Linked DNA regions of Homo sapiens. The protein of the gene in region 2 purifies or fractionates together with the protein of the main gene of each other region. This does not show direct contact. Each region holds a gene or a part of one and is shown on either strand. Other genes may lie near its edges. The genes, in order: QDPR and NCAM2.

The links.
Region 1: the proteins of NCAM2 (region 2) and QDPR fractionate together in Homo sapiens (co-fractionation; one large-scale study listed by BioGRID). This does not show direct contact.

The regions. Positions count from the first base shown.
Region 1 is NC_000004.12:17,488,019-17,491,844, reverse strand, and holds part of QDPR (dihydropteridine reductase), read left to right. Parts: intron 1-1,099; coding exon 1,100-1,183; intron 1,184-3,826. UniProt on the Homo sapiens protein: Catalyzes the conversion of quinonoid dihydrobiopterin into tetrahydrobiopterin.
Region 2 is NC_000021.9:21,001,116-21,004,941, reverse strand, and holds part of NCAM2 (neural cell adhesion molecule 2 isoform 2 precursor), read right to left. Parts: intron 1-3,826. UniProt on the Homo sapiens protein: May play important roles in selective fasciculation and zone-to-zone projection of the primary olfactory axons.

The DNA.
Region 1 (3,826 bases), on a different chromosome or scaffold from region 2:
GCCCCCACTTGTCTCCTGCAGACCCCACCTCTTAATACTATTATGTTGCAGTTTGTGTTTTGTATGTGAGTTTGAGGGGGATACATTCAGACCATAGCAATACTTCCAGTTTTGGGTTCTCCTGGGCTGTCCAGAATGTTTGATTGGCTGGTTGGATGGGTCTGTCTTTTTTGCCTCTTTTTTTCCTCTCCCTTTCTTTTCTCCCTTCATTTCTTCCTTTAAAATTAGACTACACATTTTACTTTTTTATATGTAGTTCTGTCTTTCAAGTCATTATATGGGGTATGTATGTGTGAGAGAGAGAGAATATGGGAAACTGTTGGAGGTGTTTCTGTTGGTCATCGGGGGACTGTCCCCCATCAGCTGTCCCAGGCAGAGGCAGCTGCTTTGGAGGGAGGCTACTCCTTCTCGCTGGAAGGCTTCCAGCACCAGCAGGCTTGCCTCTTGCCTGTGGTCCTATAAAGGGATGCTGAGACTGTAGGGACTGCACTGATTGACTTTCTGGTTCCCTTTTAGTTGTGAGGTTCTGTGATTCTGTGACATGATTCCCACAGCTGTTTTGAATGATTCGAATGATTCCTGAGGCCTTGATGTTCTTGGGAGATTCATGCATATCTGAATTCTATATTATTCTGCCAAAAATCTTAAGGTTTTGTGGAAAATAGCCACATATTTAAAATTTTAGTATTTTAGTATTCTCATATTTAAAGGCATATAACTATCTTAAATCCTTAGAAATGAGTGTGCTGCATGTTAGGGAGTGAATAAAGACACAGCAACAAAGCAGTTTAATTCAGTGAAGACTCTTTTTTAAAAAGGCAAAATGTGGCTCCTTCTGTTTTGTTCTTATCTGCCTAAGTGGTGAGCCACAGCGCACCTTATTGAATTATGCTCAGATCTGGCCTTTGCTAGCGGGGACAGCTTCCTGCTCTCTCTCTGCTTATCTTTCTGTCTGATCTTTCCATGTAAATAGCACCCTCAGTGCCAGAGGCTCTAGGTTGTCCTGCTGTATGTTTGCGTTTTCCTGGCCAAGGGGGACTGGGCACCTGTTGTTAGAAAGGAGCGACATGAATGACGTGCTTATCTGTGTCCATTGCAGGGTTACCCTGGATACCCCGATGAACAGGAAATCAATGCCTGAGGCTGACTTCAGCTCCTGGACACCCTTAGAATTCCTAGTTGAGTGAGTATTACAGACATGTCCATGACTGAGCAGCTTCCAGCCCCTATTCTCTGCCTGCTGTGGTCCAGAGGACAAGTCTGTGTTCCCTGAGATCGTCAATCCGGGTGGTCTTGGGAGGTCTCTGGGACTCTGAGGATGCATTGCACATCAGACGGAATCTCAGAGTAGCTGGACTTGGAGACAGGCAGCACAGTGGCAGAATGGGTAGTGCCGACATGAATCCTGGCTCGCTCCCTCACCACCGGCCATGCTGAGCACATTATTGACCTGCTGAGGCCTCAGTTTCCCCACCTGTATCATGAGGTCCATCATGCTTGTTAGGATTAAACGTGATAGTGTGCGGCAAGCACTCAACACAGTGTCTGGCCATAACAAGTGCTCAGTGATCCCCAGCTGCAGTTTGTGTCCTTACTGCTGTGATGAGGAGACTCCATGGGGGAGGGGGACACCACGTAGATGGCCTGGGGGCACATATCTGAATCTGTGTCAAGCCACAGACCCACAGAAAGTGCCCTTTAATTTCCGAAATCCTTTTTGCCCATTTGTGAATATGGGTGGCATTTGAACGCTCATGGGACAGAGAGCTGAATTCCTCTTTTGTGTTTGTTTAGGTATCAGTTCCTCAAGCCCCTCTAGTTAGTAAGCATGTGTTCATCGAGCACCCACTATGGGCCAGGTGCTGCCCTCGGCTCTGGGGTCACGGTGAGGACAAAGATGGGATCCCTGCCCACAGGGAGCAGGGGTGCCGAGAGGGTCAAGGTGACAGCCTGACCCAGTAGTGCCTCTGTGTAAACTGCTTTGACGACTGTTTATAAGAGATGTTTGTGAAGTTAGCAGTGTGCTTCTGGCCTGATGTCACAATCTCATTTAAATTAAATCGGGAGAAATTTGGGACTTGCGTTTTATGTTTGAAATGTGTACTTACAGAACACTTTTTATGTCCCAGTCACCATTCTAAGCACTTCATAACTCTTATTTAATGCTCATAGCAAACTCTGAGGGAGGAGCTGTCATTTTTATTTAAGGCTTAGAGACTTGGAGGGATGGCAGGGGCTAAGTCACTCGCCTAAGGTCACACAGCACAGCCGGGATCTGACACAAGTGGTGTGGCTGCAGAACCTATGGTCTTAACTGGTGTGCTGACAGTTATTTCTGTCTATGCCAGGAATCATGCTTCATGCTTGATTTGCAGGAAAAAAATTGAAGTTGTAGAGGAAATCAAGCTTTGAATTGTGTTTGTGTTTGAATTTCTTTTTAAAGGCCGACACTCCCACCACACTTGAGATACTGATCTAAGACCTACTCTAGATGGAACATCTGGGATCTTGTGTCTGAACTCGTGCTGAGCCACAGACCCACAGAGGACGGGCTGTCACAGGCCCCCTTTTGTTCTAGAGATCACATCCACCCATTTGTGGTATTTGAAAACTCTCAGAAAAGCTGGCATAAAGTTTGCTTTGAGATGTCTGTGAGCACATCCTTCCTCTACCATCCCTGGTTAGAATGGCGTTCTCACTCACCTATCCACGCTGCAGATGAGGGTGAAGAAGTAAAACCATTTAAAACATGCATCGCAGCAAACCAACATGGCACATGCATACCTGTGTAGCAAACCTGCACGCTGTGCACATGTAGCCTAGATCTTAAAGTATAAAAAAACAAAACAACAAAAAAACATGTGTAACCAACACACAAAACCCTACACAACCAAACGGCACTGGTCTCTTTCAGAGCCTTCCCTCACCAAGCCCTACCCTGTCCCCAGAGATGAGGCCATGACATGACAGTACTTTAGAGAGTTTTAGCAACGCTTTGTTTTTTGAGCCCATGTGCTCATATGAGCTTGTTCAAACCCCAGAGTAGGGGCCTGAATGACTGGACCTTTACACATCAGCGCTGGCCCAGAAGGTTACAGATTGGCACTGGGAGTCTCCCAGGAAGGAAATGCTGAGCACTTTTTAGTTAATGAAGGTCCGAAGTCTCAGCTGGTGAATTGTCAAAATGGATGATGTACTCAAATGTAAATGTTTTGTGTTAAAGAATTATCATCTACTTCTTGTTTCTTGTGAATTTCTTTTGCCCTTTTTCATTCCTGTCTTCTTAGAGGGTCTTTTTGACTGCTGCAAGTGGGGTCAGTTGCTCCTCTCCTCAGATTTGTGAAAGGCCCTGTTACTGTATTTAACATTTTATTGTAATAGTCTGTTTTTTTCTATCTCTTTTTCCATTGTTTGGTGCAGCTGTGGGTACTCTATAAATGTTTGATTAAAAAAATGCCAAATAAATGAATTGCATCTGTTTCTCTCATAAATTTATGAGAAGGTAATATAGCAAAGTATTGTGCATGTGTCTCTCTCTTTGAATGAACTAATTAAAATCTTTAAAAACAATTTTTTTTTTTTTTGAGACAGGGTCTCACTGGGTCACCCAGGCTGGAGTGCAGTGTCACGATCATGGCTTACCCTAGCCTTGATCTCCGGGGCTCAAGCAATCATCCCACCACAGCCTCCTGAGTAGCTGGGACTACAGGCATGTGCCATGCCCAGCTATTTTTTGTATTTTTTTAGAGGTAGGGTTTCACCCAGTTGCCCAGGCTGGTCTCAAAAACTCCTGGGCTCAAGTGATCCACCTGCCTCAGCCTCCCAA
Region 2 (3,826 bases):
TCTCACTATATTGAAGCCCTTTCTGTTTCACTGAATGGCAAGGTGATGTCCTGGTAAGAGGCTAGGCTTTGGACATGTCCCATATGCAAACCCTCATTTCCAAGCAGTACAATCTTAGTTATTTAAACTCCCTGTATCTCATGGCCCTCATGGATAAAGGAACGATAATCGTAATAATAACAAGCTAATAGAGGATTATGATAAGAGAGCCTGTCAGTTAGTAAACACAATCAATTTTAGCTCATTCTAGGCACTAAACCGCTAAGGACTCAGACTACTTAGTGTTTAATTAATTATATGACATATTTTGTCATTTTATAATATTTTGTTGAACAAGTTATATATCTCCCTCATGCTTATTTGGCTTTTTAAATTTATATTATTTGTTTTTGTAATTATCAACATTGAATTTTCCACACACATGCAAATTTTTAAACAAATGAATCAACAATATATCAAAAATAGGTATGCAACTGGAAGTTGGAAAATCTACTCCCAGTTCCAGATAACTACAAAAATAAGTGATATAGGCAAATCGGATCATTCTTCTGTACCTCAATTTCTTCATCCATAAAACAAAGCTAATTGTCTCTTGACTCATTGGTAATCATAAGTTATAAGGTGACTGAAAGCACTTCGCACAAGTGGTCGGTACTGTTAGAAGGTGCTGATAATATTCTCATTTTAAGGCCTCAAAAAGTGCTTGTTATTTGATTATCTGACAAAATGGCACAGAATTTAAATATATTTTACTTTGAGCTGAAGATATATTAGATTCATTTAAATAAAATCTATGAACAAGTTTGGTGTTAGGAGAACTGAAGAGTTTGGAGACTGGAGCTCTAGTAACTAACCTTTTTACTTTTCTGTTTGATCTTTAGTAAGTCATTTATCTTCATTATGTGCCCATCCTAAGCCTCTTGGTGTTTAACACCAGCCTGATGTTGGTCCATAGAAAGGATTCATGATACAAAAAAAAGCGCATCATTCCTCAAAACCTTTTACTGCCATCTGCTGGCAAATTGTAAAAATAAATATGTGTTGCATCACTAGGACAATAAGTGACGCCCCCTGGAGTTGTTCTTCACACAATCTACGCAACCATTCCTAGTAATGCTGTCTAATGAGGTGTCTGGGACAGGGCAGGTATTCTGTAAATGTTAGATAAATGAATAAATGATGAATGAGTCGCCCTTATCAATAACTTAAGTAATCTCTGTCCCCTTGATATTTTTTTCTAATCACAGAGCAGCTTATGATGATTTTTTAAAACTAAATAAATGTTTATAAGCCACAAATTAATCTGTATACACATTATTAAAAAATATAAACAAAGCCTAGCATAGTAGGGTTGACATTTGGTAAGGTGCCTGCCTACACATATTTATTGTTACAATTGCTCCTCATGGCCGAGCATCAAGGTCAACTGGCCAGATTTTATAATATCAAATTTTCAAATAAGCAAATAGTGGTTCTAAGAGCATAAGTTGCTTCTTCAAGGTTAAGAGACTCTTAGTAGCCTAGGTCTTCTGACTCCAAATCCAATGAATTTTCTTCATCCCTGTGAGTTGTAATAAATCAAATGGAGCCAAGAAAGATTTGATCAATGGACCTGAAATTCTTCAAACTATAATGTTTTGATTGCCATGCTTATAAATATTCTCAAAATTCCCCATTATCTTTCTTAATGATTTAAATTCAAACATCTTGATTTAAATTCAAGATGTTTCATTACTTCACAGCTTTCTAAAATGTCTGGTAATGTTTGATGGATCCTTAGTGGCACAAGTGAACATAGAAAACTAGGAAATATGTTGATATCTATTTGTGATTAGTACTCTTATTATAACTGTAAATTGTTAAAAGTTATTAAAATATTTAAAAGAGCACCAGAGAGAAGCACTTTTATTTGTTGAACAATTAGAGATAGCTTGGCTCTATAAAGTGCAGGAATTTTACATTTAATAAAAGCATAAAAGCACTGGTTGCATCTTAAAGTGTTCTCATATCATGTAATTTGGAAAATTAAAACAAATTTATAATCTTTTAAATAGGCCTATCCTCAGTTTAATTGGGATTGTATAAAGGGAACAATAAATTTAAAATTTAGGACAACAAAATTTGAAAAACAATGATAGTCCCTTCAGAAGTATATTCAAATTATTAAATTAATTTTGCACATATCAACACTCAAGGGATTAATTTCATTTTGGGGGGAAATAGGGCAATTTAGAATCACTCTATAGTTATTGAGCACTTTTCTTCATGCTCTCAAAAATTCATTGCTGTGAGAGATGACCCTGAAAAGAGATAAGTTACAATGATTTCCCAAATGTTAAAAGACAGAGAATGCAGGAGGACCAGTTCCAGAGTCTTCAGATTGTCGATCCTGTTACTATTTGCACTGCTTCCACACGAGGACAGGCAAAAACAAATTACACTGTTCAGCTTGGTTACTAGCCTCAATCTCTGTAGCTCATTTCTCAGTTTCATTGCAAACTAGTCCTATTTTTGAAAGAAGGCCATTCTATTTACAAAATCATATGAAGTCTAACTTTTGGTACTGAATGAGGTTCTTTTGTTCCATTAATTGCTTCTCTAGTAGGACAGTACCTCGGGGAGAAAATTAGCTCCCTGTGTCATTGAAAAGACTCATCTGACACTCTCGGGACCCACCAACTTCCCTTCTTGCTCTATGGGCTCCGATTCTGCATTAAAAGTGAGAAAATACTCTGCCTAACTCCTTTGATATGAAGTAGTGAGGGAAATCCTCTGGGTTACTCTGACAATAAAGATATTAATTTACATTAGCCTTTACATTACATCTTCCCCAAGTGCAAAAGAAGACCCAGTCGATTTAATAGAAACTTTGCACAGAGAGGCTGATATCAAAGAATTAGAGCACAGCAGATAGAAAAAGCATACGAGAGAGGCTGGAGCCATGTAACAGCCCCGACAGAAGATGAGTTTGTGGAGCTCTCTCCTGTAATCTTCAAACTAGTAGACACTCACACACCTGTGCTCTATTTTTAGAAGGTACATTGCTGTAATGTACAATGACTTACTAGCACTTCACCAAAGAGAATAACTGTAAGCAGATGACTGCTTTAACTGATCAACTGGGCAATTCACCCCTCCTTTCCTCACGATTTTGGCTTAGGTAAGTGTTCTAAGTGGTACGTTTGAACTGCATTGCAAGAGAGATGAATAGCATTATTCTTACTTTAGGTTTTAGTATAACAGTGCTTCTATCTTACATATGTGAACATCCAGGAAAAATGCTTATTAATCATACTTGTTTAATTTTTAAAGGAAGAAGGAAGTGGTTTCAAAAATGTAAAAACTCTCACGAAAGCAATCCATACATACAACAGTTTGGAAATTTGAATATACAAAGATCCAAACAGCAAATGCAGTTAATCAGAAACTGAAGTTATCACTTGAGATTTATGATTACAAAGCCTGTGACCAAGTTTTGAACACAAAGGAAAAATAATTGCAAAAGTTACAGAATTACAGCATTTTCTTTCATTGACAATTAAATTCAGACTTCACAATAACATTCTAACCTTACTTCATTATACATTAATCTTGCAGTGGAAATTAGAGGCTTTTAAAGGAGTATTTCTGCTACAATAAAAAAAAGCGTCTTACTACTGTACAACAATAAGGTTGTATTGAGAGTTACAAGTAAACTATTAGGCCTTGTTAGCTAATTATAGTATTGGCATTCACTTAAGTTAGTCAGTTTCTCACTTAATGTCATTTTCTCCTATTCAACTGCTTCAGTTCAAAACGTTTTGACTCCTAAAAAGGGAATACATCA